2 separate regions of the Homo sapiens genome follow, and region 1 is linked to region 2. The links come from fine-mapping of genetic effects on gene expression. A gene starts in region 2. The other region holds a variant in brackets. All regions are shown on one strand. Distances are from middle to middle. Region 1 has its middle 23 kb from the start of LNMICC. Region 2 holds the start of FABP5 (fatty acid binding protein 5).

Region 1 (16,053 bases), 25 kb after region 2:
CAGCCTTCCTACTACCCCTGTCCCCAGCCACTCGTCTCCTTTTTAGAGGCAATCATGGTAACCTTTTTCTTATTTATCTTTCTAGCAATATTCTCTGTAAATCCAGGCATAATTATATATGCATCTCTGTACCTTGCTTTATTAATTTAACAACTCCTCTAAGGTAGGTCCTTATCAGACATATGGTGCTGTTTTGTTTTAGAAAATTGCAAATATACTTGGGAAAGGCTTAATTAATAGTCTTGTGGATTGTTTTCAGTCTTTTGCTCTTATAGATAACCAAAGTTCAGGCTATGTTGTTTTATTCAATTTAAAGAGACTCTAAAGTCTAAGTACAAATGGAGATCAAGAATTGAGCTGCTAAGTGCTGCTAACAGCATTGAGGAGAGATGTAGGTTACTTGATGATAAGGCAGCCGCAAGAGTTCAATGGATGCTATCTGATGTCTGAAATTATTCTGCCCCTCATGAGTACTTATACAGGAATTATTTGAGTAGATATGAATACATGTTTATACCTAATCCTTTAGTCTCTTCCTGTAGGAAACTAATAACCATTTACTGATAAAAATATCACTCACAGCCAGGCGCGGTGACTTACGCCTGTAATCCTAGCACTGTGGGAGGCTGAGGTGGGCAGATTACCTGAGGTCAGAGTTCAAGACCAGGTTGGCCAACATGGTGAAACTCCACCTCTACTAAAAATACAAAAAATTAGCCAGGTGCTGTGGTGCATGCCTGTAATCCCAGCTACTCTGGAGGCTGAGGAAGGAGAATCTCTTGAACCCAGGAGGTAGAGGTTGCGGTGAGCCGAGATCACACCACTGCACTCCAGCCTGGGCTGCAGAGCGAGGCTTCATCTCAAAAAAAAAAAAAAAAGAAAGAAGTAAAAAAAAATATGTCACTCACTATAGGGGTGGGAATTCATCTACCTAATTTCATCTGGGAGTCAGTGCATTTTCTAAAAGTAAGTGCTCAACAGTGGAGTACCTGCTGCCAAAATCCTCAAAGATAAGAATGTGTTTTAAAAGGGCTGGCTCTGTGATAAGCAGAAGGGCCTATCCATCAGTAATACTTCTTGCTGGAAAAGCAGCCTCAGAGAAAGTGGAACCGATATAAGGCAAGTTCCTGGAATATTGTTTTGCTAATAATATCTCCAGAAGGGGAGATTCATTACAGAGACAACACAGGGCCCAGTTTGTTCAGGGTCATGATGCATGACTGGTTTGGTGGTTATAGGAGGTTGACAAGAGCAAGTAGTCCAGCACAGAGTCAGGCAGAGGCAGTTTAGTTTCTTACTGGCTGAGAAGATGGTGGGGGAGATGCAGGGATGGGTTTGGTATGCATAAAAGTATTGTTCTGGACTGATATTTATTTGAGGCAACTCTCATTAGGTTAGACATGCTCCCTGCCCTCAGTAAGTTTACAATGCATTAGACTGACATGGAAACAGATGTTATCTAAACAAACACAAGAATGATTTTGAACAGAATTTATACATTACAGTATAGAACACATGTGATGCATGTAATTCAGTTTTTTTTTGTTTTTTTTTTTGAGATGGAGTCTCACTCTGTTGCCCAGGCTGGAGTGCAGTGGCATGATCTCAGCTCACTGCAACCTCTGCCTCCCGGGTTCAAGTGATTCTCCTGCCTCAGTCTCCCAAGTAGCTGGGATTACAAGCACACACCTTCACACCCAGCTAATTTTTGTATTTTTGGTAGAGACGGGGTTTCACCATGTTGGTCAGGCTGGTCTTGAACTCCTGACCTTGTAATCCGCCTCCCAAAGTGCTGGGATTAAGGTGTGAGCCACCGCACCCGGCCTCAGATTTTTTAAAACTCCGTAATTTTCTGCTAGTCAAGTATATCAAACTAGGCCCTGAAATAAGTTTCAACAAAGGCAGGCTAATGTAGTAAATAATTTAGATCATGGTTATTTAATTGCTATATATCCTATGTTTCCCCCATGTAGAATTAATGTTTTCACTCTCTTTAAAAACATTTTTATTACTGAAGGAAGAAATCACTTTGAAACGTTAGATAAGCATATGGATTTTCAACGTAGTTTGATAGGTGATGTATTAATTGGGAAAAGAACACTATCAGATTCTGCCCCAGGGCATTTTTTTTTATTTTTTTTTTTTACATTCTTACATTGTCTGTTCTCTGAATTGTGTGCGTGGTATGTATGCTCTCACAGTTTAATTTATAAGTTAAATAAATAACACGGAAACCAAAACAATCTGTGCTCCTTAAGTACTGTACAACAAACTTCTCAACCACAGGATTTACTTTAGCACTTCCCGAAAAGTGCTTCTGCAAATATACAAACTCACACCACCCACTTGCAGATTGCACTTGAATACCAAATAAGGGAGTCTTGAATGAATGAGGGGCTAGAATGCAAAACCCAGCATTTCTTTTAAAAGCAAACAAAAAAATAAAACATTGATTTTTTTTTTCCTGCATGTGCCTGGTAATACTAGTTTGCTTACACTCCTGTTTCTTGTTTCTTTCTCTTCCTAGCCTCCCTATACTTCATGATCCTCACCAGGTAAATTTAAGAATGGTAAAAACAGTGAAACTCATCTTTGGTTCTAAATCTCTTCACCTTTCCCATCTTTATTCATCCACTATCTTCCTTGTTCTCATGATTGTCAAAACAGGAGTCATGGAATCAAATAAACCCCAAGCCCAGAGTGGAGGGACTTGGAAGAGTCATTTTGTACAAAAGTCCAGGAGATTTAAATATAGTATTTAGATTTTCAGGGCTGAAAGGAACCTTACAGAGGGTTCAATCTCATTTCAGGTATTTGACTCTTTCCTGAAATATGTAGAATTGTTTTAAAACAATTTTTAACTTTGTGAATTCTTGACTCGTTACGCCTACTCTCTTCAGCCTTTGAAACAGAAAATTATTAGTCTTAACTTTCAAACCAATAATGTTTAAACATTCAATAAAATAATTATTGTACATATCACATGAAACTAATGTTATAAGTCACTGCCTAAATGAAGTACACGACTTTTTTTCTCTAACTTTCTTTCCCAGGCTAATTCTCTGGTATATTTTTCTACTTTCTGTGTTCCCATAGCAGTGAGAAAACAGGTATCATCTTTATTTTGTTATTCTCTTGTTCAAATCTGAAAAGGTATTGAACTCAGAACTTGAGGAGCATAATTAGTATAGAAAGTAAAACAAGAAAAAGTAGATACAATAAACTATTAAAAAATCAAATTCTGAAGCTCAAGGGGACCTCAGATATCATCTAATAAACTATCTTCGTTTTATTTTTAATGAAAAAACATTATTTAATTCTTTCATAGTTATCGGAAATTTCAGTTTTACTTTATTATTTTACCTTTATAGTTGTATGATACTTTGCTTTTTAAAATAATTATTTTAGATTCAAAGGGTACAGATTTATTACATAGATATATTGCCTGGTGCTGATGTTTGGGCTTCTAATGATCCCATCGCCCAAGTGGTGAACATAGTACCAGATAGGTAATTTTTCAACCTTGCCCCCTCTTCCCTCCCTTATTTTGGAATCCCCAGTGTTTGTTGTTCTCATCTTTGTTTCCTGTGTACCCAATGTTTAGCTCCCACTTATAAGTGAGAACATCCTGTGTTTAGTTTTCTGTCTCTGTGTTAATTGGCTTTGGATAATGGCCTCCAGCTGCATCCATGTTGGACATGATTTTGTTCTTTTTTATGGCTGTGTTTTCATTTTACACGATGAAGAAAGGAAGACCTAGAAAATTTATGTGACTTGCTCAACAATACACAAATGGTTTATGATAGAGCCTCTGTTAGTTCCCATTCTCTTGACTTCCAGAACACCGCTGGCTGTATGAAAGATCTCAAGAGAAGCTTTAATGCATAAAACATATTTTTGCCTTTCTTGATTCCTAAAAGCTTTTTCTCTAGGCATTTGGATTCTGAGAACTTGATTTCTTTTCCTCTTCTTCTTTTTCTATTTGCATAACAGCTAACTCTAATTTAAGCTCTTTCAGCCCCAGTTATAGGAAACGTATTATGCATCCACTGAGCCAGTTCAATTCTCAGACAATTCTCAGTGTTTGGAATGGATTCCAGAGTCTCCCAGCATTTGACTATTTATTTATAATAAGGAAGGGGAGGCTGGGCACGGTGGCTCACGCCTGTAATCCCAGCACTTTGGGAGGCCGAGGCAGGCGGATCACGAGGTCAGGAGTTCGAGACTAGCCTAACAAACATGGTGAAACCCCGTCTCTACTAAAAATACAAAAAATTAGCCAGGCGTGGTGGTGGGTACCTGTAATCCCAGCTACTCGGGAGGCTGAAGCCGGAGAATTGCTTGAACCCGGGAGATGGAAGTTGCAGTGATCTGAGATCACTGCACTCCAGCCTTGGTGACAGAGCGAGAGACTTCCTCTCAAAAAAAAAAAAAAAAAGAAGGGGGGGAGCAGTAGTATAGGCAATCCAAATTAATAAATAATTTTTGAGTAATTGCAAATAAATTTAATTGTAGAAACTAATACCTAGGTTAACATATTAATGGGAGCATCCATCTTGGGCAAGGCATATATGCCGGAATGTTCAGGGCCTTGCTTTCTGTTGATGAAAAGACTCAAACTCTGTAAAATACTTGAAGAGATTTATTCTGAGCCAAATATGAGTGACCAGGGCCTGTGACACAGCCCTCAGGAGACCCTGAGAACATGTACCCCAGGTGGTCAGGGTGTAGCTTGGTTTTATACATTTTAGGGAGATATGAGACATCAACCAAGTACATTTAAGATATACATTGGTTCAGTCCAGAAAGGCAGGGCAATCCAGAAAGCAGGGTAGAGGGCTTCCAGGGTCATAGGTAGATTTCAAATTTTTCTGACTGGCAATTGGTTGAAAGAGTCATTATCAATAGAAAGGAATGTTCCAGTTAGGATAAGAGGTTGTGGAATCCAAAGTTTTATCATGCAGATAAGCCTCCAGATAGCAGGCTTCAGAGAAAATAGATTGTAAATGTTTCTTAACAGACTTAAGATCTGTGTTGATGTCAAATGCTGGTCCGCTTTTTCTGAATTTCAAAAGAAAGGAGCGCATAATAAGGCATTTCCAACCCCCCTTTTCCCATCATGGCCAGAACCAGTCTTTCAGGTGCCCTGGACAAGGAGGGAGTTCATTCAGATGGCGGGTGGGGGGCCTTTGAATTTTATCTTTGTTTTACATTTCAAAGAGAGGTGACTTACATAGTTCCATCTACCACCATCTCTACAGCGTATAGGAGGAATGCTGATAACAGCTGCAGAAGTTCTGGAGCATACTTCAGATACGAATGGTCTAAGCAATAATGGAATATTTAGTACTGGAGGGAAGTACATGGTAGAGCTGGTAGACCTGCAATGAAAATATTTCTAGAATGAACCTCATTGAGAAATGCCAAACAGTTCAGGAAACTAAAGGAATGAGCACTTGTAATCAGTTCCAAGAATATTATTAACAGGACTCTTCCCATTCACATGGTCTCATTACCACTCCTCTCCATTATTTTTACACACACACACACACACACACAATGTGTTTATTTTCAACTCCATTTGATCTATATGTATCTTCTCTCTTCATTTTAGTAGCTTTCTGATTCTCACTGTTTTCTAAGAGATGATGTAATTTACTATTTTTATTTAAAAAGTTCTACATCTCTTCTCTTTGGAAATTCTGCAGATTTGTCTGATTATGAAAAATTAGGCATTTACCTTTAAAATGAATCCCAACACGCCAAAAACAGTTTCAGTGTCTTCCTAGTCGTTCTAATATCACTGCAGAAAGCATTCTCAGTCTTTACAAAGATGTTTTTTAAGATTATGTTAGTATATGGGAAATAAAAAGATATTGCTACAATGGGTCCTCTTGGCTCAGCTGTCTTGAGGACCAGTGTGGATCCATGCAGACTTGGATTGAGCTGTAGCAGATTACAGAAGTTCTTGAACGATTGTTTTCCTTACTTCTGGATGGGAAGAATATACATGGAGGAAGTTCTTTTTCTTTCCTTGAAGATCAGGATTCCCCAACCCCTAGGCAGTGGACCAGTACCCGGCAGTGGCCTGTTAGGAACCTGGCCGCATAGCAGGAAGTGAGCAGCAGGCAACTGAGCATTACTGCCTGAGTGCCATCTCACATCAGATCATTGGCTGCATTAGAGTCTCATAGGAACAGGAGCCTTATTGTGAACTGTGCATGCAAAGGATGTAGGTTGCATGCTCCTTCTGAGAATCTAATGCCCTAATGCCTGATGATCTGAGGTGGAACAGTGTCCTCCCAAAACCAATCCCCCTCCTCAACCCACCTCTCCATCCATGGAAAGGTTGGGGATGGCTGCTGTAGATGGCATATTTCCAGATTCTCTAGAGTCTTTGGCTTTTTAAGGATCGTTTTAACCCTTGTATATTGTGTTTTCTTCTAATTGTTTCCTCTTAAATAAGGGATCACAGAACTAGACACCTCTATGGATAAGTTTT[C/G]TGCTAAAAAGCAGTTCCTTATCTACAATCTTTTCTCCTTCAGGCCATTGCCACTTCCTCTTCCTTGATTATCCCATTTCCCAGTTTTTCACCACTAGGTGTCATAAGTATTCACACAAATGCCTGAAAGGTGTAAAAATAAGCTTTCTTTTAAGTTGTGCCCCTGAATATCTTGACTTTCCACATCCAAATCTTGTATTGCTTGGGCTCATGTTATTAGCTCACATTGACATGCGATTCCAACTCAGAATAGAGAGTGTAGAAAAAGTCATAAAATCAAGGAAAAACGGCTGGGCGCGGTGGCTCACGCTTGCAATCCCAGCACTTTGGGAGGCCAAGGCGGGTGATCACGAGGTCAGCAGATCGAGACCACGGTGAAATCCCGTCCCTACTAAAAATACAAAAAATTAGCCGGGGCGTGGCGGCGGGTGCCTGTAGTCCCAGCTACTCGGAGAGGCTGAGGCAGGAGAATGGCGTGAACCCGGGAGGCGGAGCTTGCAGTGAGCCGAGATTGCGCCACTGCACTCCAGCCTGGGCGACAGAGCGAGACTCCGTCTCAAAAAAAAAATAAATAAAGTAAAATAAAATAAAGGAAAAACAAAATGAACATCTTTTTGGTAAATATGTGTAGCTTTGACTTCTGCAGATTTTGTTCCTGTGAGATCATCTTCCCCACTCTGCCCCAAAAGTGTCTTTAGCCTCACTCTATGAGATTAACGGGCAGCTTTCCTTTTAGTGATGGGCTGCACAAGAGTGCGTTGAAAAATCCCTTAGGAATCATTTATTACTTTGTAATGGGGAAACGTGAGACATCACAACCCAGTCTTGTGCTACTTATTTGTATTTCAGCTGAAACGGCTGACACATTAAAAAACATTTTCAAATCATGGATTTTTAGAGCTAGAGCTAGAAGAATCCTTAAAATGAAGTCTAATCTTTTCATTTTATGTGAAGGAAATAATACCTGGAGTGTTTTGCTCCAGGCAAAACTAGATCTTGGACACACATCTCCCTACTTCTAAGCATCTTGCATCCTCTCTGTACATGTTACTATTGGGATAGATTCATGCCTCTACTCTGGAATAGATTCATGTATCTACTCTAGAATTTTAAGGAAAATATAAACCATAATACTCCTTCGACTATGCTTAATATTATGAGAAAAAGCTTAGCTCAGTAAGCCTCCTCGGTGGAGAGTTAATGTTAAAAAAATTAGGCTATTAGTTACTGGCACAATAATAAGAAACAATTTTTAACAGATTTTGCAGATTGCGTTTTAATTCAGAATGATGGGATAACTTCCTTTTTGCTTTTCTTTGTATTGAAAGTCAGTCAGATCCATACATATTTTTTATTGAAGTTTTTTTTTTAAAAAAGGGGATGACCATATTTAATGAAAAGATATACTCGATCCATTGGTATTCTAAGTAAAAAAGAATATTATTATTGTTCTCACCAAGATGTAAAGGAAATAAGCTTACTCAGATGTAAAAGCAGTGCAAATATTGTATTTTTAAAGTAGCTATATCATAAAATAATTAATTTTGTTCGTGTATACCCTTTATTCGTTGGGAGGAGCAGCTGTCAAAAGGCCTGGGGAGTCCCTGTCCTCTGGTGCTCATCCAGTTCCCCAAAGGAAGGATAGGATCATGCAGATCTTGTAAGATCCAAATAAGCCTCTTTTCTTCATGTTGACTGAACTTTCCTTGATAAATCCAGGTGCAGAGAATGTCTTGTGCGTAAGAATCTTACCTAATTATAATACTGAATAATTCCTTTGGCGAAATTTTCTCTCCCTTTTGTTTTTTAAAGATAATTAAAAACATTTTAATTGTATTTTTTCCTAGTTTTATTGAGGCATGATTGACAAACAAAGGCTAAATTTTCTTTTAAAATTTTGAAACACTGAATTAAAAACTAACTCTTTGGTCATAACTACAGTGAATGGAAATTATATAAACTGGTGATTCTGAATGGTGTTTGAGATGTTACACCAAAAAAAGGCAAGGTTAAATTAGGGAGATAAGGTTGTATGCTTAACACCTTTTCTTAGACATTCATAATACTGCTTAGCATATCAAAGACTGAAAAATCCTGAAATTAAGAAACTTAACCAACCGTGTTTAAAGTAGCATGTTCTGAGTATAGTTGATCAGAAACTTCTGTTGTAAAATACAAGTAACATCTTGTGAAAAACAGGTTGAGAAACCTTGATTGCCCTAATGACATAAGATACTTGCTTGATAAATCAACTACTGCATATCTTGCAATATGCAACCCTTCTATTTGACTTTTATCGTACTTATTGGCAGTATCTTAACAGTATTCCTTTTGCCTCTATGACTACTTTTTGGCCAATGGGAAGATTCATGGTTGCAACATCAAAGACCCAATCCCTGCCAAGTTTACCCACAGAATGTCACAATTATCAATGTCCTGTCAACAGATGAATCATTTAAAAATATTACCTTCAAGTGTGTTATAAAACAGTTTTTTCGGTTGATTTCCTCTAACTCATTTGTTTTCTTTTACTTAATATGAAATTGTTCAGTGTCACAGAGTCCCAGGCTATTTACTAAGCACCAAATATGCCTCGATTAAAAATACAATGGTCATAGTCCCTGGGTTTGATAGTATGGTTGTTACCTGGTGGTAGGCGTAGCTAGTACATTCAAGATAAAATACTGACCCTTCAGTATCTCATAAGAGGTTGAGTGTGTTTGTTTCTAATGCTGCATGGAAGTGGTACATCCAGATTACCACTGGTAATGGAAGTTTATCAGAAAAATCAAGATATAACAAGGTAACCTGGGCTACTGTTTCATAGATTTGTTGCAAATTTGCGTTACGTCCTGGAACTTCAATAATTGGGTATTCCATAAATCTTATGGAGAATTGTAATAATATTTTTATACTATTTTGCATCTGGCTACGGCTTCAGTGATTTGTTTCCCTGTGAGTACTTTCTATTTATACATCCCAAGAGAGATGATTCATTTTGACTACTTTGTCACCATTCCATTCAAAGAACTCTTACTAGGCAGAGTTTTATACCAAGTGACTACAAAGGCCATTGATCACCTTCCAGTTCAGGTTAATTTGGAAGCTAGTGACTTTGAACCAACCCAATCCCTAACTCCATCAATTAGGTGGAGGAGATACATGTGTCATAAATACTAGCTAATATTCCAGAAAAGTTACTTGCACTTTCTGTCCTAAAAGATGGTATAATGAATGTGGTGATGGGAACCCAGATTTTCATAGAAATTTTTTGGTCCAAGGCCTGTCAAGATCTGATTGCCACCTGCTCCTTCAACTGATTTCTGATTATCCTTCTCCTTCATTAGTTAAAATAAAGTAATAAAAGTAAAGAAATTGCTATTCTCTAAATGTTTCATGCTTTTATTTCCTTACATAATTTGTGCTTGCTCTTCTTTTCTACTAGAATGCCATCCTCTTCCTTTATCACCAAATTAAATTCTTCTCATATTTCTGGGTTTGATTCATGAAGTACCTTTCCTAGGTACTTTTATGTCATTCCTAGGTTCAAAGAAAATTTTAATGCTGTGAAAAAAATTAAGGATGGACAGATTAAGATGGCAGACAGGAGGCAGGACTAGCTTGCAGCTGTTGCTCAGATGGACAGAGCAGCGTGTGGAGACTCACATTGTGAACTTTTGCTCCAAGAACTACTGCAGGAACATACCAGGAAAGCTGAGAGAATCCACAGACCCTTTGAAGGTACTGGATCACTACTGCAGGCTCCCTGAGATGCTGCTGAAAAACTGTGAGTCTGCTTGCTTTCTCAACAGGGAGGCTCGTGGTCTGGGGCAAGTTCTCAGCCCTGGTCACTGGCTGCTTGGAAATAGACCTGGTGCTGTTGCAGGGCCACAGTGGGAGTGAGACCGGCCTTTAGGACTATGGGCTGCGTGGGAATGCGGTGAGGCCTGTGGCTGCCGACTTTCTCCCACTTCCCTAGTGACCTGTATGACTCAGCAAAGGCAGCCATAATCCCTCCGGGACTATAACTCCATTGGCCTGGGAACCGCACTCCCATCCCCCACAGCAGCTGCAGCAAGACCCGCCCAGAGAGAGGCTGATTTCAGACACGCCTATCCCTGTCCCCACCTGGTGGTCTTTCTTTACCCTCTCTGGTAGCCAAAGACAAAGGTCTCAATTTCTTGAGGGCTCTATGGCCTGCCCACCACCTGAGAAACCTGAGTACTTAACCAGGTGTCCCTAGGGCAAGTTTGCATTCTCCCTATAGGACCACAGCTGATGCGCTCTTGAAAGCACCACCTCCTGGCTGGAGGCCAACCAACCCAAAACCAGCACACTAAAAAACACAACCAAGGACCCTCACAGAGTCCACTTCACTCCCCTGCTACCTCCACCAGAACAGGTGCTGTTATACGCGGCTGAAAGACTTTAAGATGAATCACATCTCAGGACTCTTTGCAGACACTCCCCGGTACCAGCCCAGAGCCTGGTAGCTCCACTGGGTGGCTAGACACAGAAAGGCAAAAGCAATCACTACAGTTTGGCTCCCAGGAGGCCCCATTCCCAGGAGAAGGGGGAAAACATCCTATCAAGGGAGCATTCCATGGGACGAAAGAATCTGAACAGCAGCCCTTGAATCCCAGATCTTCCCTTCGACATAGTCTATCCAAAAGAGAAGGAACCAGAAAAAAAATCCTGGAAATATGACAAAACAACATTCTTTAACACCCCCAAAAGATTAAGCTAATCAAGAAGGCACCACAGAAAGGTGAAGTCCAACTTAAATAAATAAAAAAGCATAATACAAGATATGAAAGGAAAATTCTTCTGTGAAATAGCATAAATGAAAAACAATCACATTAGGTAATCATGACTCACTCAGAGAAATGCAAAATGCACTGGAAAGTCTCAGCAATAGAATCGAACAAGAAAGAACTTCAGAGCTCAAAGACAAGGCTTTTGAATTAACATAATCCATGAAAGACAAAGAAAAAAGATTATTAAAAAAAAAACGAAGCATCCAAGAAATTTGAGACTATGTTAAACATCCAAACCTAAGAATAACTGGTGTTCCTGAAGAAGGGAAATCTAAAAGTTTGGAAAACATATCTGAGGGAATAATGGAGGAAAACTTCCCCGGCCTTGCCAGAGATCTAGACAAATATAAGAGCTTAAAGAACACTGGGGAAATTCATTGCAAAAAAGATCATTGCCTAGGCACATAGTCATCAAGTTATCTAAAGTCAAGATGAAGAAAACAATCTTAAGTTCTGTGAGGCAAAAGCATCAGATAACCTATAAAGGAAAACCTATCAGATTAACAGCAGATTTCTCAGCAGAAACACTACAAGCTAGAAGGGATTGGGGTCCTAGTTCTAGCCTCCTTAAACAAAACAATTATCAGACAAGAATTTTGTATTCAGCGAAACTAAGCTTCATGACTGAAGGACAAATACAGTCTGTTCCAGATAAATGAATGCTGAGAGAGTTCGCCACTACCAAGCCAGCACTACAAGAACTGCTTAAGAAAGCTCTAACTCTTGAAACAAATCCTCAGAATGCACCAAAATAGAACCTCCTTAAAGCATAAATCTCACATGAACTATATAACAATAGCACAATGAAAAAAACCCAAGGTATTCAGGCAACAAATAGCACGATGAATAGAATAGTACCTTACATCTCATTACTCCCATCGAGTGTAAATGGCCTAATGCTCCACTTAAAAGATATGGAATGGCAGAATGGTTAAGAATTCACCCACCTAGTTTCTGCTGTCTTCAGGAGACTCACCTAACACATAAGGACTCACATAAAGTAAAGGGGTGGAAAAAAATACTCCATGCAAATGAACACCAAAAGTGAGCAGGAGTAGCTATTCTTATATCAGACAAAACAAACTTTAAAGCAACAGCAGTTAAAAAAGACAAAAAGGGACATTATATAATGATAAAAGGACTAGTCCAACAGGAAAATATCACAGTTCTAAATATATATGCACCTAACACTGGAGCTCCCAAATTTATAAAACAATTACTACTAGATCTAAGAAATGAGATAGAAAGCAACACAATAATAGTGGGGGTGTTTAGTACTCCACTGACAGCACTAGACTGGTCATCAAGACAGGAAGTCAACAAAGAAACAATGCACTTAAACTATACCCTACAACAAATGGACTTAACAGATATTTACAGAACATTCTACCCAACAAATGCAGAATGCACATTCTATTCATCAGCACATGGAACATTGTCCAATATAGACCATATGATAGGCTACAAAAGAAGTCCCAGTAAATTTAAGAAAATAAAAATTATATCAAGTACTCTCTCAGATCACAGTAGAATAAAATTGGAAATCAACCCCAAAAGGCAACCTCAAAATCATGAAATATGTGGAAATTAAATAACTTGCTCCTGAATGATCAGGAGCAGGTCAACAATGAAATCAAGATGGAAATTAAAAAATTTTTGAACGATAACAGTGACACAACCTATCAAAACCTCTGTGATACAGCAAAAATGGTGTGAAGAGGAAAGTTCATAACAATAAATGCCTACATCAAAAAGTCTGAAATAGCACAAAAAGACAACATAAGATCACATCTCATGGAACTGGAGAAATAAGAACAAACTAAACCCAAAGCCAGCAGAAGAAAAGAAATAACTAACATCATAGCAGAACTAAATGAAATCGAAATAAAAAAATACAAAAGATAAATGAAACAAAAAGCTGATTTTTTGAAAAGATAAATAAAATTGATAGACTGTTAGTGAAACTAACCAAGAAATGAAGAGAGAAGATCCAAATAAGCTCAGTTAGAAATGAAACGAGAGATATTACCACCAATACTACAGAAATACAAAATATTATTCAAGGCTACTATGAACACCTTTACACACATAAACCAGAAAACCTAGAGGAGATGAATAAATTCTTGGAATTATACAACCCTCCTAGATTAAACTAGGAAGAAACAGAAACTCTGAACAGACCAATAACAAGTAGCAAGATTGAAACAGTAATTTAAAAAATTGCCAACAACAACAACAACAAAAGCCCAGGACCAGATGGATTCACAGCTGAATTCTATTAGACATTCAAAGAAGAATTGGTACCAATCTTACTGAATGAAACTACTCCAAAAGATAGAAAAAGTGGGAATCCTCCCCTAAATCATTCTATGAAGCCAGTATCACTCCAATAGCAAAACCAGGAAAGGATATAACAAAAAAAGAAAACTACAGACCAATATCCCTAGTGAACATAGAGGCAAAAATCCTCAACAAAATACTAGTGAACTGAATCCAATAGCATATCAAAAAGATAATTCACCGTGATCAAGTGAGTTTCATACCAGGGATGCAGGGATGGTTTAACATACGCAAGGCAATAAATGTGATGCCTTAAATAAACAGAATTAAAAGCAAAAATCACATGATCATCTCCATAGATGCAGAAAAACATTCAACAAAATCCAGCATCCCTTTATAATTAAAACCCTCAGCAAAATCGGCATAGAAGGGACATACCTCAATGTAATAAAAAGCCAACTATGACAAACTTACAGTCAACATTATACTGAATGAGGAAAAGTTGAAAGCATTTCTCCTGAGAACTGGAACAAGACAAGGATGCCCACTTTCACCACTCTATTCAACATAGTACTGGAAGTCCTAGCCAGAGCAATCAGACAAGAAAAAGCAATGAAGGGCATTCAAATTGGTAAAGAGGAAGTCAAACTTTCACTGTTTGCTGATGATATGATCGTAAACTTAGAAAACCCTAAAGCTTCATTCAAAAAGCTCCTAAAACAGGTAAATGAATTCAGCAAAGTTTCAGGATACAAAATCAATGTACACAAATCAGTACCTCTGCTATACACCAACAGTGACCAAGCTGCAAATCAAATAAGAACTCAACCCCCTTCACAATAGTTGCAAAATGATAAAATAAAATACTTAGGAATATACCTAACCAAGTAGGTGAAAGACCTCTACAAGGAAAACTACAAACACTGCTGAAAGCATAGATGACACAAACAAATGAAAACACACCCCATGGTCATGGATGGGTGGAACCAATATTGTGAAAATGACCATATTGCCAAAAGCAATCTACAAATTCAATGCAATTCCCATCAAAATACCACCACCATTCTTCACAGAACCAGAAAAATAAAATCCTAAAATCCATATGGAATCAAAAAGAGCCTGCATAGCCAAAGCAAGACTATGCAAAAACCTATGTCTTTATTATGAATTACCTCTTTTTTAAAGTTAACTATAACATATTTTTATTACTGCAATGAAAAGGAGACTTAACAGTTACACAACCATCTAAAATACTTCTCATTTACCAATTGCCAATTATGTTCCAAATGGTGGCTTTCCACTTTATCAGCTGATCTATTCCAGGTGCTCTCAAAAACTTATAAATCCCTGAAGGACAATTTCTGAACAGCAACTAGAAGTGAACAAAATAGCAAGAAACACTATACTCATAAAGTACTTTCCTATCACATTTTTCCCTCATCCTGGAAAAACGTTTTTTCTCCCATTGCTGATCTAAGCATCTCTTTATAATGCATGCCATCTACCTTTTTGGACTTATTTTCAGCTGGCAGATAGAAGCAAACTATATCCATTAGATTTCTGCAGCTTCTTCATCATTGGTTTTATTCATATGACACAATTAATATGTGGTCACCCACTTGGCTCTTAGGAAAGTATGACCCTGGTTTAAGGCCAGAATTTTTTCAGGAAAGAGATAGGTAGATTCTGATAATTAGAGGCTTGCTGTTGAATACTTTCCAGCCCTGCAAACCAATACTTGTTGTTTATTGAAAATCTGAAACCTGAGATTATGGCAGTACCCCAAGAGACTGTCATTTTTTTTTTACTGTTGTGGGGAAATAAGACCTCCAGAACTTCTCTCTGTTAATCAGTTCAGGGTCTGGAAAATATACCCTTGGAATATATACACGCACATACACACACATATTTATTTATAAAATCAAAATATGTATCATAATATATCATTGGGATATATATCTATATATAATATAGATATATCATATGTGATATGTATGATAGAAGTTGTAGGCTCAGTCCACGCTTAACTTGGAACCTTATAATCTTATTTCAGAAAGCCCTAGGGTAAGTGGAAGAACATCATGACACATGTGGATACAACTTTGTGATGTAAACTAGATTAACAGGAGGTGTCAGTGGATTGGAGAAGTATATGCAGTGTATAGCGAATACAGAAGCAGGTCAGCTCCTGCTGCTTCAGCTGAAGTCCAGTACCCACGCCACTCACTTGCTGTTTAGCTCCAAGTTCTGAATCCCTGCCACCAACCTGCCATTTTGTCCCTGGTAATATAAGCAATCCAAAACCATGGTTTTGAACTTAGTTGCTGGTAATTTGGTTGGCTAGATTTCCTGAAAGCTTTCCAGGTTTTCACCTTCAATCACCTAAATATGCTGGATAAAAAAGAAAATAAGTCATTTTAAACCCACAGTTAAGCCAAGAAGAAAGTATGCGTC
Region 2 (15,135 bases):
TGTTTGAACTATGAATTAATAACTATTATTTTCATAGGCCAAATACGAATTGAAAGAAATAATTTAATTTTTAGGTTAATCCCCTTATTTTTTCATTTTCATTTTTCTTCCCATAAAGTATTTTAAAGAATACTTAAATGATTATGGAATATATTTGGTGTTCTTGATAAACCTATAATTTGCAATTCTATTTTTGCTTACTCAGAAAATCTTTTGTCAAAGGAATCTTGATTGAGTTTTAGCTGAATTAGAAGACATCTAAAATTCCTTTAAACTCTAGGATTTTGATTCTCCTTTAGTCCTAAATCCAAGCCACTAATCTATTTTCAGAAATGAAACTATACAACTTTGAAGAATTTACCAATATGTCTGCTCAAGTGACAACTCATTGTTCTGAGATCACGTCTGACCAAGAATTACTGCCAAATACGCAATTAAAAACTGTATGTCTTGGGTGTGGGCAGCAAAGATCAAGTTCTACTTGTTCATGTGGATTAGTGACTTGGACTAGTTAGGTTCCCTCAGAGTACTGAGGCCCTAAGGCTTTGGGTGTGAAAGAACTAGAGCCTTGCCTTGGAAAACCAGAAGCAGCTGACACCTGCTTAGTAAAGCACGAAGCAAAAGGAAACCCAATACTTTTTTGTGTGTGCAGGATTTACCATCACTATTCACGTTGATTGGAAAATGACAAATAAATGTTTTGTTGAACTCTTATGTGATTTTTATTTTGTTTCTAGTTATGATTTGTATCACCACATGCTTTCAAATGGAATATTAGGCAGTTTTGATTTTCTGTTTCATATTGGGGTCAAACTTTTGTTTCTGTGACTATATCTCAGAGATGATTATGTCAACAAAATGCAAAAATGCAATAAAATGGAAAGGTATTTAATTTGAGAAAAAAGCTTTTTTTCCCATATAGTACATAACATAGAGTAACTTTCATATGCTAAATACATTCAAAGGGACACCAGTAAATGGCATTCTTTCCTGTTTATAGAAGCTGGTCCTATTCTGTCTTGACACTTATATGATGTCCTGATAACATAGCTGCAGAAGTGATAATATTTTACAACATGCAACAAATAAAACTTGTCATATAGAACCATAGTCTTCTCCCCAGGAACCACGTACAGTTTCTACTGAAAGACAAGGGCATCAGAGTATGTGTGGCAAGAAATCATTCAGCTTTGCTTCTGAGACTCTTCTCTCAATTCTCAGAAAAGGAACTCAGCAGGATTTTCTGACCCTTACTGAACTAGCCGGGTGGTGACAATTCCAGTTTTGACTTGTATTCTGGAAATTTTTATTATGCAAGTTGTATATCTCAGTATGCATCACCACCTCAGGCATAGCCTGGTGTCCGTTTACTACCCGGTTTATAGCGATGAACTAACTCTAAAGCACAGGCAGAGCTGAGTAGTGACATGAGTTGCTTCATGATTTCTAACCCAGTATTTCTCAGACAAGATCTTTCTAGCTGAGCAAAGTTTACCTCAGTTAACTTTTTGACATTTGGCACATTAATTTTAAACAAGATATATTTATTTGGTACACTCACCTGGTTTCTGTTAAAGACTCGCTTAATATTATAAAGATAAAACAATGGCCTTGACCAATGCCATGGAGTTTTCCCTCTATGTTTTCTCCTAGTAGTTTTATGTTTTCTCCTAGTAGTTTCATGTTTTACATTTAAGTATTTAATCCATTTTTAGATGATTTTTGTATATGGTAAGAGATAAGGGCCTAATTTCATTCTTCTACATGTTGATCTCCAGTTTTCTCAATACCATTTATTAAAGAGACTGTTCTTTCCTCATTGTGTGTTCTTGGCACCTTTGTAAAAAAAAAAAAAAAAAAATTAAGTTGACTGCAGATGTGGTTTTCCCTGGGCTATTCTATCCCATTGGTTGATGCGTTTCTTTTTGTGCCAGCACCATGCTTTTTCAATTACTATAGCTTTGTAGTACATTTTTGAAATCAGGTAGTGTGATGCCTCCAGCCTTTGCTATTTGTTTTTCTTGGCTAATTGGGGTCCTTTGTGGTTCTATATGAATTTTAGAATTGTTTTCTCCATTTCTGTGAAGAATGACCTTGGAATTTTGGTAGGAATTGCATTGAATCTACAGATCACTTTGGGTGGTATGGACATTTTCACAATATTAGTTCCTCCAGTGCAAGAATACAGGATATCTTTCCATTTATTTGTGCCATTTTAAATTTCTTTTATCAATGTTTTACAGTTTTCAGCATATAGATTTTTTATCTCCTTGGTTAAATTTACTCCTAAGTATTTTATTTTTATACCTACATCATAACATCACATTTTACCCCATAAATATATACAATTATTATTTGTCAATAAAAAAATTAAAAGAATAAAATAAAAACATGATTGTGTAAATGGAAAACAACAAATGTAGACTTTAAATTAACCAGTGATGATCTAAAAACCTTTCATTTATTTCTTAAATAAAATAATGTGGTTTCTTAAGAAAAAAGGCATAATGAATTATGGGGAACCTGAGGGCTTCTGTTTACCTGATATTTCAAAGACCTTCAATTTTTTAAAATTTTCAATATGTGATGAACTAAAACAGAATCAATTTTTAATAAATGTTTGTGAAATTTAAAAAACCCACAATGGATGTAGTTTTTAGCTTGTATAGACTTAGATACCAGACTTCTTGAAGATAAGAACTAGATTCTATCCACATAATTACTAGGTGTTCTAAAAATATGGGGTGATTTGAGACAAAGGAATGTGTCTGGTATGGACATCTCTGCTGGCCATTCTTTTGTGAGCAAGCAAAGCTGTCCCTGCATGACATATTTGTATGATACCTGAGTAGGGTAATACTGAACATGGCGCTACCACATTTTTTCCCTCCTGCAAGGCACCTTCAGGTCTTACAATAGATGATGCTGTAGTACCATGTTAATGCCTTCCTTGAAATTTAGACTTTGGAGCTACCTGATAGGTGAGAATTAAATATAACAACTCTTCATCCTATTTGAAATAGTTGGAAGGAAGGAGGGCATTGCTCAAAATCATACCAGGACAACAAGCATAGCTCTGACTTGCCCCAGTCAAACCAGGATATGGTCATCCTATCTTGCACTCTGAAAAAAATCGTGTGTTCAGATAACCTACCAGGGCAGAAAGGCCATTAGGAGCTCCATCTCTGCTCTGATGGTGAAACTAGAATTAATGCTATCTGATGTGCTGGGCAGGGAGAAGGAGGTAAGGATGCAGGGCACATGATTATTTTTGTGTTATTTTAGGATTTGACCATCAGCTTAGGTCTTGTTCCTTCTTCCTGATGGCTAAACTCTGTCTACCATTCTCTTGCCAGGATCCAAATCCAGATCAGAAGAACCCATCAGAATCATGACAGTACCATCCCCTGGAATTCAAGCCTGACCTCCACAGCTCTAGCTGCCGTGTCCCACCCACAGAGCAGATCCTCTAGGTATTTTGTTGTCTTCAGATCCAGGTACATACACTTTAGGCCCAGCGTGTGGCAGTTATGAAATAAAGCAAATGTTTCAAAGACAAGTCAGACTTATTCCTCATTCAGATGGGTAAAACTATATTGAGTGTGAAGAAGAAAGGGCAGGGTAGGAAGAAAACCAGAGGAGAATTAAGAAGTGATTTCAATTTTTGAAGTCAATTTTATTGATTTCTTGACTGACTCAATAAAGGAGTGAAGTTGAATTGGTTGATATCTAAATAAAAATATCCATTCTAGGACAACAGATGTGTGTAGCTCAGGTGAGCTTTTAATCCAAAGTAAGAAGTAGGGATTTCAGACCCACATTCAGAATCCTGAGGCCATGGTAGTTTTGAGATCTCCTCTTTGTAGCCCTGAGTGTTGACAAGCCCAGCTTGGTGTTCAATATTTGGCAACTCAGTAGGATGTCTGAGACCCTGCAGAATTAACTATGTATTTCAAGGTTGTAAGATAGGAGACAAGATTTGAGATTTGTGGCACAAATATTTTTTATCCCACCTTCCAAAATAGGCTGGAAGTAAGATCACAGTTGCTCTTCTTAATGGTAACAACTACTTAGCCTCCCAGTTCCCGCATGAAATTACAATATTTAACCAATGTAGAAAACAGAATATACTTTACTGGAAACTTCCCCTACATACTGTTGAATCTGTATCTTTAAGTTTGGTCAATGCAGAAGTGAGCAGGTGAACAAAAAGTGTCCTGTGGTGTCTATGGGTGGGTGAACAAAAGGTACCCATCCTGCTGCTTGGGTCCTTCAGAGAAGTGCACAAAATCAGCTGCATGCTGGTTTTACAGCTCTGTGCATGACTCTGAGGAGTTATAGGGTAGCTCTTCCCACTGCCAAAGTAGGAGGACCAGAGATAGGATCAAGAAAGCATCTTCAGTCGGATTTAGGTAGGTTATTAAGTGCTGATGATTCTTCTTCAAAGCTAATCCAGAAAAATGGAAGCAGTGGGCCTGACTCACTGAGATAAATAGCTTAGAGGCAAGCAAATCCACGGTTTTGTAGATTTGACTTGAAAAAAATCATTAATTCTTATAGATAAATATCAAAATAGAGAAATGATCAAATGGTGTGAGAATCTAGGAATACTGCATGGGAGGTAGGAATGAAAAATAGAAAAGGGTAATCTACAAGAAAAGAATTTGGCCTCTTCCAGTGGGAACATATCATTTGGAGGTTTTTTATGTTTGAAATTTTTTAAGGACAGAGATGCTCATTATTAATGTGTCTGTGTGTTTGGGCTTGGCCAGCCTAAGATTTTGTATATAAGGAGGCTTAGGAGTAATAATGTGATTAGAAGCGGGCTTGAAGAGGTTGGGGTTGCTAAGGAATTTGTTTTGAAGTTGCATTGCCTGGTAAACATAGTGCTTTTACTAAGATTTTGTGTTTATTGGGGTGGCTTTGCTAGCATCCTCCCGCTCCATTTCAAGCTGTGCCCTTTGGAGTTGTGCTTTTAAACCTTTGAACACTGCTCATATGAGGTATAAAAGGGTTATCCCAAACTATGTGTATCTGTTGCCATGAGCTATTGACAAATGTAATATACAATAATACACATGTCTGGAAAGTAGGAAGATCTATATAAGTAAGGGAAATGTATGAATTTTATACTGAAAGCTTTTATTATAAAATGAGCCATTATGTCCTCTGCCTTATTTTGAAGCCATTCACTTTTTATTACTGTAACTTTTGCAATGCCTCATTTTCCCTCCAGCTATCCTCTAGTCCAGTTAACTCAGCAAGCACAAGTTTATGATGGATCATTTAAGGAGCTGGAAAATTTTAATGGTTAGCCGTGGCAGTTATGATGTGTAAGACTCTAACTGCTTTAAGTAAAAGGACAAAGTTCAAAATATAACTCCATCTTTATAAGTGCTTTAATTAAAACCAATCTTATTATGAAAAACAAACCAAAAAAACCTTGCATTGATGGATGGTAGCTATTTGCAATTTCTTGTTTTGGCTGGATGCATTGAAGGATTAAAAATTTAATATTTAAGGTGTGCCTTAAACTGCAAGGTTCCCTGATTTTATTCTCATCTAGGAATTTTTGCTGCTTTAGGTAGCTGACAACATGCAGATCCATACTCTATCTCTTAAGATTTTCTTTTGGAACTGATTCCAGGTGAAATTTTCTTAGGGAAGATGTGGCTAGAAGCTGGGTATGCAAAGCATGTCTATAGCAAGGAAAGCCAGATGAGTGAGGGTCAAAAATCTAGTTATAAAATTTAAGGGAGACACTAGGTTTAAATAAACATATTCTCCAACCTTAGTGATTAATTTTTTTCCTTTTTTGATCATCTGGCCATGTACTTAGAGAAGACTCAGTTCCCTGAAAATGGATTACTTTGAATATTCTCTGCAATAATTTAATGTAGTACTCTCCATTTCTCTACCAACTGCCTGTTGCTAAGCCACCAACACTTAACTGTCCTTAGGAAGAACTAATATACAATAATCAACTTTGTGGAAGGCACATCTATGTACATAAACTTTAACTGGGAAGTTGTCTTTAAATAAAAATGACACAATATGCTCCAAAGCTGTGTGTGATTACAGAATGAGAAGCTGAAAAACTACTCACGTTTATCAAGTAAAGCCTCAGAGAAATATTACGGTTTCACCACTAGGTGGAAATAGAGTAATTTTGAGTACGCTTTTTCAAGGCCATGAACTTCTACTGCAGGAGTACTTCATAAACTGAAGGGGACCTAAAAAATCATTTAGTATTAATTCTCATCTCCTTAAATTCATAGATGATAAAACTAAGCTTCAGAGATATTAAGTAAAATTGCATCTGTCTTGAAAAAGGCAGTTTTCTAAGCTACTGGAAGAAGAGTTGCTAGTAATTCTTGATTCTTCAGTCATTTTCATCCATAAGAATAATGTGTTATTATCTTCCAGTGTGAAGGAAAACATGATATAACACCTGTATTACCTATGTGCTGTTACTAAAAATAATGAACAGCACAGTTACTAATGTTCGTAAGGACAGGTTAGGATAAAACTATTGTTTCTTGTTTCCTATGTTGTAATTAATCACAATCAAGTGATGATTCTCCTCCTTCTTTCCAAGAAGAAATACTCAACCATCTCCATAAAGTTATATGAGACTTCAGTGAAATTTGATTTCACAACATTTTTGGTTTTACACCTCATAATGGGTGCAAGGTAAGTAGCCTAGAATAGGCCTTTACTTAGCGGGTGAAGGCAGTACTTAACTGCTTTTTCACAGCTTAAAATCCATTACCATTACTCTGGAGAAGGAAAGAATCTGAGTAGTAGAGCTTAAGGGGCATTAGAAATAATCTACTCCAATCATACATCTGTATATGCATCAGATGTGGTGTCTGAAAACAAGACATTCAATGTGTTTCCCTGAGGAACAGAGCAATCACCATGCCCTTTTTTGTTCCACAAGATACAATAACGGTTATTATTCTGGCCATATAGCTTTGTTTTGTCTGTATGTTTTAACACAAAAGAATTATTTCCACTCATCACATCAGAGATTGTGTTTAAACTTAAGTTTTAAGTAAGGCCTTGGGATTAAAGGCTATTTCTTAAGTACCTAAGTATCTAGTACTCCAGTGCCATTATCTTTTTGATATTTCTGTAACATGTTAGATTATGATCATTTAAAAATTAGTATCAGAGTGCTGCGTCCTATTATTACTACATATAGTCTATACAGAAATGGATAAGACATGTTGAAATAGCACATGAAGAGCTCAAGTTCAAACACACAGGCAGCCCTAAGGAGCTGCCTGAAGTGCCTGGTAGCCAGGGCTTCTCATCACTGAGTAAATGATGCACTCAGCTTCCCTCAGAACACGAATATTTTCTGAGCAGTAGGGCCTCGGGTGTGGGACATGCAGACCCTTATTGGGAAAACAATTGAGTGTTAAATGGTACCACAAGGAAGACTGGTGTGACCCTAAACTGAGGGCAGGGACTTGAAATGAAAGGGATGCAGTTCAGGGGAGTACATGTCCTGCAGCATGTTGGGAGATAGCAAACCAACCTCAGATTTCAATTTTGTCAAGGATGATACAAGAACTAGTAGTGTCTCGGTGACTGTGGTCTACTCAGAGCTCCATCACAGCTACCCTGAGCCCAAGGCAGTCAGGTGTGGTCTGATTTCATAAGGTCTTCAGTGAGACGGACCTGGATGGGGATTCTGGTTCTACCACTGTGAGAACTATCTTTGCCCTATTTTCTCTTTTGAAAAATTGGGATAACACCCCTAGCAAAAATATAGTGGAGACCAATGTCTATAAAGTGCCCAGGAAGCACATCTAGCACTTAGTAGCTACTCAATAAATGCACATTACCGCTATCGAAACGGCCAGCCTGTGTGGCAACTTCCTCACCTCAGTCCATCTGACTTCCAACAGGCACCCGGGAGCACCAAGTAATAAATTGTGAAGAGTACACTTTGAAACGTATCATGTTCTACGCACATGTGTAGGGTATTATTATAGTTCAAGAGAAAGAGGGAACCCGCTGGTGTCTGAGAAGAAACCCGCTGGTGTCTGAGAAGAAACGGTGAAGGGTGCACTACGAAGGGAATATAAACTAATCAAACATTCTTGAATGGCAATGACAGTCACTAAAGTTGACACTTCCTGCAGTCTTTTAGTTTAGAAACCACACTTCCCGAGACGTCCCCCATCCCAACAGGGATAAAATCCTCTAGCTCAACTCAGGTATATCCCCACTATTGGGCCAGGGAGACCTGCGGATGGCGAGAGCAGGTTCTCTTAGGAGGGTGTGGATTGTGAGCTTGTGCGCTGGCGAGGAGCAGAAGGTCAGGGAGGCACCGTAGTTAATGAATCAATAAACCAAACAGCCGATCAATCACTTCCTGCAGTCCGAGTCCGGCGAGGGCTAATCGATTGGTCCGGGTATTTTGAAAGGAAAAACGGCGGTGGATATGTTGTCAAACGGAGGGGTGCAGGAGAGGCGGGGCCAGGCCTCCAGGTGACCCCTCTGGCTTCCTGGGCCTGCAGAGGCGCCGAAACGTGCAGGCGCCGGCGTCCATGAGGCGTGGGGCGCGCCGGGCGAGTCCCTGCTTGCAGGAGGCGCCCGAGAGGCCGTCGCGTACCCTGGCAAGAGGAGCTGGTTAGCACCTCCCGACCCCGAGAAGGCCCAGGGGGCGCCCGGCGGGCGGGGCGGGGACCGGGCGAGGCCCGCCTCCCATTGGCCGCATAGCGCCGCCCAGCGCGGGCCGCCGTTATAAAGCAGCCGCCGGCGCCGGGTGCCTCACAGCACGCTGCCACGCCGACGCAGACCCCTCTCTGCACGCCAGCCCGCCCGCACCCACCATGGCCACAGTTCAGCAGCTGGAAGGAAGATGGCGCCTGGTGGACAGCAAAGGCTTTGATGAATACATGAAGGAGCTAGGTGAGGCACCCGGCCTGGCAGCGCCTGCAACGTGGCGTGTTGTGCGGTCGTCTGTCCCTAGGTCCCCGTCAGCGTGCCAGATTCTGGGGCAGGAGATGCTCGGCGGCCTACCCCCATCCCCTCCCATCTTCCCCACCACGCGGCCGTTGGGTGCAGCGCGCGCAGCACCACGCGGGCAGGCGGCGAGGAGCAGGGAGCGTGCGCGCCTCTTGCCCGCCCGCGGGCCGCAAGATTCCGGAGGTGGTCCACCCCGTGGTCCACCTACCTCTGCTTCTTTCCCTTCGCCCAAACGGCAGCCCTTCCGCATTGCTTCCTGTCCTTTAGCGCGCGCACCCGTCACCTCACGCTGCACTTCTTTCGACCCCCTCCAGGCGACCCTGTATTTCCCTTTTTTCCCCCTTTACTCATCCTTCCCCTTCCTGCCACCATTCTGTCTCTCCCATTTACCCCATCGTGGCAGCACCCACTCCCCTTTCCCTCCCTGTCGCATCTTTTGTTCCCTGTGGCGCGCAGGTCACCCTCCGTTTTCTTCATGGGGACGCGGTGCTGGCGCGCAGTTTCCCGCAGAAATCCTGTGGAGGGGTCTGAGTGGCGCTACAGCTTCAGCTTGCATTCCTCTGTCAGCCCCGTCTCCCCCAGGTCCTCTGCTCGCCCTTACCAGTTGAGCCGAACCCTTTGGATTGGTACCCCATGGAACACCAGGGCCCCCGAGAAGCGTGGCGCTGGCGGTGCCGACCTGCTGCTGGCACTGCCGGGCCGGGGCGCCGCAGTGGGCGGGTGGCCTGTGGGAGGAGCGCAATGAGGCCTGGGGGTGGCCGTGTGTTGCCATCCTGGCCTCTGCCACTTGAGGGTGAGGAGGAAGGAGGCAGTGGGCTTTGCTGGAAAACCGTAACAGAAACTGCCTGGCCCTCCTGCGGCTAACTGCATGCAAGATGGGTGTGGCCCTGCAGAAGGCAGATGACTTCTTGAAGCGTTCCGAGGGAGAATGAATCTCAGTAGTAAGATTCATTTCTCACTCAAAACAGTGCTTCATTATAAATTACTGTCCTTTTCTATGCCAGTGACAGATTGCATGCTGATTGAGACACTGGATAAATTGCAAACAAAAATGGACCTTTGTCACAGGCCACTAGGAAGTGAGATGGAGTTAGCATAGCATGGATCCTCTCTGGAAGGGAGCTTCCAGCCCTAAGGGATGGCTGGGATTTATGAGGGTGCTTCAGAAGCCGGTATCCACAAATGTTAACCCGGTTGCTCGCTGGTGAAATAACTACCGTGACCCTCTATTGATACCTGGTCGCCGTGGCACTTCGGAATCACTCCTTCAGTACCCTTTATCCAAGACCATGTGGTGTTAAGGCTGGTTTATGGTGAATCATGAGTGTATTTTTGATACTATCAGTAAAGAAGGCAGTATTTTTCTTTTTCCTTGTAAACCTACATCAAGATGACTCTGGAAAAAGCGATTTACTGCACCTGTCCAATAAATAACAGTGTGTGTGTGTGTGTGTGTGTGTGTGTGTGTACAAGTTTAAGGCCCAAAGAACACTTTTCTCTGCCTGTAGAAAGCAAATTGTGTGTAGGTTTGGAGGGCTTGTTTCCAGGATTCTGGAGTCTTGAAGGTTGTCAAGACTCAGTTCATTAGGGAGCAGTCACAATGTGAAAAGAGCAGAGCCCATTTATTTGTCCAAAGTGAGAGTACATAATGACTCAATTAACAGCATAAGGCACCAGCCCTGAGCTGGCAAAAGAGAAGGCTCCAAGGGGAACTTTAAAGCCTGGCTGGGTGTTCTTCATCAAGACAATCATGCTGCGTAGGTTGTAGTCTCCTCATTTATGAAACAGTGATTTGGCCTGGATCTAAGATTCCTTATACATGTTAACTAACTCTAAGGGGAAAGAGATAGATCATAAATTACATGTTAACGTTGAGGGGAAATTGATAGATCATAAATTAAAATATAATTTAATATGTTATATATTTCTATTGATTTATATACCTATGAAATAGTTTTTATATTGAAAGGTAGGATTTTTTTTCCCATTTGTTAGCATCATGATTGTGCTGCTGAGTTTTAAAAGATTGTGCTATTTGAATATCTCAGGATCAATTTCTATTTTGTGTAGTCTATTAATCAAATATTTATCGAGAACATTTATATGCCAGACTGTGCTGGAGTCATAGAATGTAATGGTTGGCAGAATCTAGTAAAAAGAAAAAGATTGAGCAAACTCCTGAATTTGCAATTTTGAATGCTTTATCTCCACCTTCTATCAACTGCTTTGAGTAAATAAAATTTGGAAGTCCACATTTCTTCCCTAACTTTCTGAAAGCCAGCATAGCATGGTGGCCAGAGCTCAGATTTGGAGCCAGGGTGCCAGTGCTCTTGGTTCCCAGCTCCATCACTTTCTAGTTGAATGATCTTGGGCAAGTTACTTCCGTGCCTCGCTTTCTCATCAGTAAAATGGAGACAGTAACATCTGCCTTTTACAGGGCTGTTGTAAGGCTTACCTGAATTTCATATATGTAAAGTGCTGGCTCATACCGTGGGATATATGTTTACAATAGTTATCAATAAGCAAATAAGTGAAAATATGCCGCACAAAGTGATTACAATGGAATTATTGCTTTTATCATGTAAATGATAACTTTGGTCTTCCTGTTATTTAACATGACTTAACATTCTACAGGAGTGGGAATAGCTTTGCGAAAAATGGGCGCAATGGCCAAGCCAGATTGTATCATCACTTGTGATGGTAAAAACCTCACCATAAAAACTGAGAGCACTTTGAAAACAACACAGTTTTCTTGTACCCTGGGAGAGAAGTTTGAAGAAACCACAGCTGATGGCAGAAAAACTCAGGTCAGTCGTGACATGTTATGAAATCACAGAAGCTTCTAGAATGATAGGCTGTATCAATAACATTTTACTGTTTATAGGCAAGAACTTAATGAAAAAGTTATTTTATGAATTGAATTTTGTCAAATTAGCAAAAGTATCAACTTCATCATAGAATTGGCATCTTTTATTAGCTACTAGGTTGAAAACCACAAACTATTGTGAATAAAATCAATATGGGTTAATGAAGTAGACTCAGAAAGGAGAAGGTGAAACAAATGTTGATTAAGGAGGTTATGAGTCATGGAAACTCTTGTAATGTACTTGGAAGATTAAAACGTTTACTTTGTTTTTGCAGACTGTCTGCAACTTTACAGATGGTGCATTGGTTCAGCATCAGGAGTGGGATGGGAAGGAAAGCACAATAACAAGAAAATTGAAAGATGGGAAATTAGTGGTGGTAAGTGTCAAACTGCTGTGTCTCAGTCAGCTTCTTGTGTGCATTCATAGTTCACATAACTGTTCTATATCATTGATCATTAACAGAACTCAGTTTGGAAGAAAAAAAAGCAAAATAACAAGTTAAATACTAGAACACTAATTATTAAGAAAGTCCTAGTGGAGATAGAGAAGTGACATGACATAGGAGAGGATTTGGCTGGAGTTGGGGGGAGTTCTTGCTTTGCTGCCACGTCACAGTGAAATCTTGGCAAGCCACCAAACTGCACACATTTTTCTATATCTTTAAAATAAGGAATATTTGCCATAACCAAAAGAATAAAGATATATTCAACACATTAGTTTTCTGTAAAACATGCATATTATAAGCAAAACAACAGCTTCTGGCTTCTCTCAAACCCGTGAATTCTGAAAGAAATTTTCTCCATCTATGAAGTAGATTACGTGATTTCGTGGGACTTTGATTCTAATGTTTTAATACCACCACTGCTCTGGAATCTAAGGCTAACCTAACTCTTTTAATATCTTTCCTTCTTCTAGGAGTGTGTCATGAACAATGTCACCTGTACTCGGATCTATGAAAAAGTAGAATAAAAATTCCATCATCACTTTGGACAGGAGTTAATTAAGAGAATGACCAAGCTCAGTTCAATGAGCAAATCTCCATACTGTTTCTTTCTTTTTTTTTTCATTACTGTGTTCAATTATCTTTATCATAAACATTTTACATGCAGCTATTTCAAAGTGTGTTGGATTAATTAGGATCATCCCTTTGGTTAATAAATAAATGTGTTTGTGCTAATATATCTTGTATGCATTCTTTAAACCTTACAGGAAATTAGTGATGAGTTTTAATAATTATTAATTGAGTAAAGGTTGGGGCAGTCTTGAGGGTACTATATTGAGATGACACTCTAGCAATTTATATAGATAGCTACTCTTACAGGAAATACTGTACCAATTATTTAAGCTTGCCCTATACTATTTGAACTTTGTATGAATTCAGGAATCTTGAATTTCTGGCAGAGACCATTCTCAATAAAAGGTGACTACAACATAAACTTTATTATTCAAATTAGAGCAAAGGTTTAATTAACCAGCATTGACTAAAATACTTTTTGTGTGTATTTATATACAAATATAAGTAATACTATGTATGGAATAACCAGAATTCTAGTGAATCTCTGTTTCTCGGTCCCCAACACAAATATCCACAGTTCACATTTGGAGAAGCAGGCTGTTGGCCCTGAGCTAAAGCTTCGCATAAATGATCTTTAGGGCAGACGTTAAAGGGCTGGTACAACTACAACCATTCTGCAAGTAACTAGTTCAAGGACAGGAGGTAGTAGAGCTGGACCGACAACCTATATCTCATCAAGTCTACTCAATGTGTTCAGTCATTCTGCAATGCTGTCTCTTTGCAGCTTGTGCAGATCTTGTCTAAAGTCCCTACGTATACTAAGTGAGACTTCTGAAACCACCCTCCACGTGCAGAAATGTTAACTGGTAAGCCTATTCTTTTAAGAATTAGCCACAGCTAGCAGTCAGTGGAGGTTTTCAACTCGCTGATACTCTAGTCCTGTCCTGTCCAATACATAGCTATGAGTCACACATGGCTATTGAACCTTTGAAGTGTGACTAGTCTGAATTGAGACGTACATAGGGGATTTCAAAGGCTTAGTACAAAAAGTAAAATGCCTTATTAATGATTTTTTTGGTATTGATTGCATATTAAAGTAAATATATATTTGTAAAGTTAATTTTACCCATTTACTTTTTTAATGTTTCTAGGGAAAATGTAAAAATTGCATGTACTTTCATTTCAGTCATGCTTATTTCAGTCTCTATGCTGGGGTTCTTTCATCCACATTTTCCGCTTCTCATAATTATGTATATTTATTGACATTCTCTCTGAACCAAACATGATTATGAGAAGTGGAAAATGTGGATGAATGAAGAACCCTAGCATAGAGACTGAAATAAGCATGATTGAAATTCACATAGAAAGGAAGTCTAAATCAACACTGTCCAATAAAAAATACGACACAAAAATGAAAGTTAGCACGGGACCCATAATATAGTAAAGGCTTAATGTCCCACCAGCACTTCCCAATATAACTTTATGTGACATGGAAATGCTCTTTAATATCTGCACTGGCCACTAAGGTAGCCACTAGCCGTAAGTGAGTATTGAGCATTTGAAATGTGGTGAGTGCAACTGAGGAACTGAATTTTTAATTTAGTTTTTATTAACTAAAATGTAAATTTAAGTACCCACATGTAGTTAGTGACTGTTAATTTGGACAGCATGGGATGTTTCCAAAATTGAAATTCTTATGTTTTAAACTTTCAAACCGATTCCTCTTGCAGTATTCTCCCTCTCAATTCATGGGAATGTCATGTTTCCAGTGTTCAGGCTAAATGTCTAATCTTTGATTATTTCTTTACCATCTTATATCTAATCAATTAGCAAATTATTTGTTTTACCATCAGAATATACCTAGAATTCAATTGCTTGTCACTTCTTTCACAGATACCACCCTCATTCAGTCATCACCATCATCTCTCCCCTTCTCTGCCATTTTGCAACTTTATTCTCCCAAAGCTATCATTTTAAAACACAGGTTACAACATGTCACTCCTCTGTTGAGAACCCTCCACTGGCCTCTTACTTCCCTAGGAGTAGAAGCTAAGATCTTCATAGAGTTTCTATGTGATTTGCCTGTGTCTTCCACCTTCCCAGTGCCCCCTCCTGATTTCATTTCCTGCCACTGTCCTCTCAAACATTCCCTCAGACCTTGGCCAATGTTGATGCAAATGTGCTTTTGCCTCAGGGCCTTTGCACCTGTTTCCTCTGCCTGAAACACTCTTCCCCAAGGAGGCTGCAGCCCACACTTTCTCCACTCCT

Evidence for each region. PIP is the estimated chance that this variant, and not a neighbour inherited with it, causes the effect.
Region 1: its variant is the best candidate, but not a certain one, in a credible set for the expression of FABP5 in whole blood (TOPMed, PIP 0.59).

The regions. Positions count from the first base shown.
Region 1 is chr8:81,296,104-81,312,156 of GRCh38, forward strand. No RefSeq gene overlaps it. Among named protein-coding and RNA genes, the nearest start is that of LNMICC, 23 kb to the left of the region's middle. The variant C/G (reference allele first, on the strand shown) is at 6,503.
Region 2 is chr8:81,271,747-81,286,881 of GRCh38, forward strand. It overlaps FABP5 (fatty acid binding protein 5), which reads left to right and starts at 8,790. Exons shown (of 4, transcript NM_001444.3): 1 at 8,790-8,928; 2 at 11,620-11,792; 3 at 12,127-12,228; 4 at 12,768-13,029. The coding sequence starts at 8,850. The coding sequence ends at 12,821. LNMICC (lncRNA associated with lymph node metastasis in cervical cancer) reads right to left here and starts at 9,678. Exons shown (of 2, transcript NR_186603.1): 1 at 9,587-9,678; 2 at 3,653-8,630. RefSeq lists enhancers at 8,433-9,267, 9,268-10,102 and silencers at 8,459-8,538, 8,549-8,838.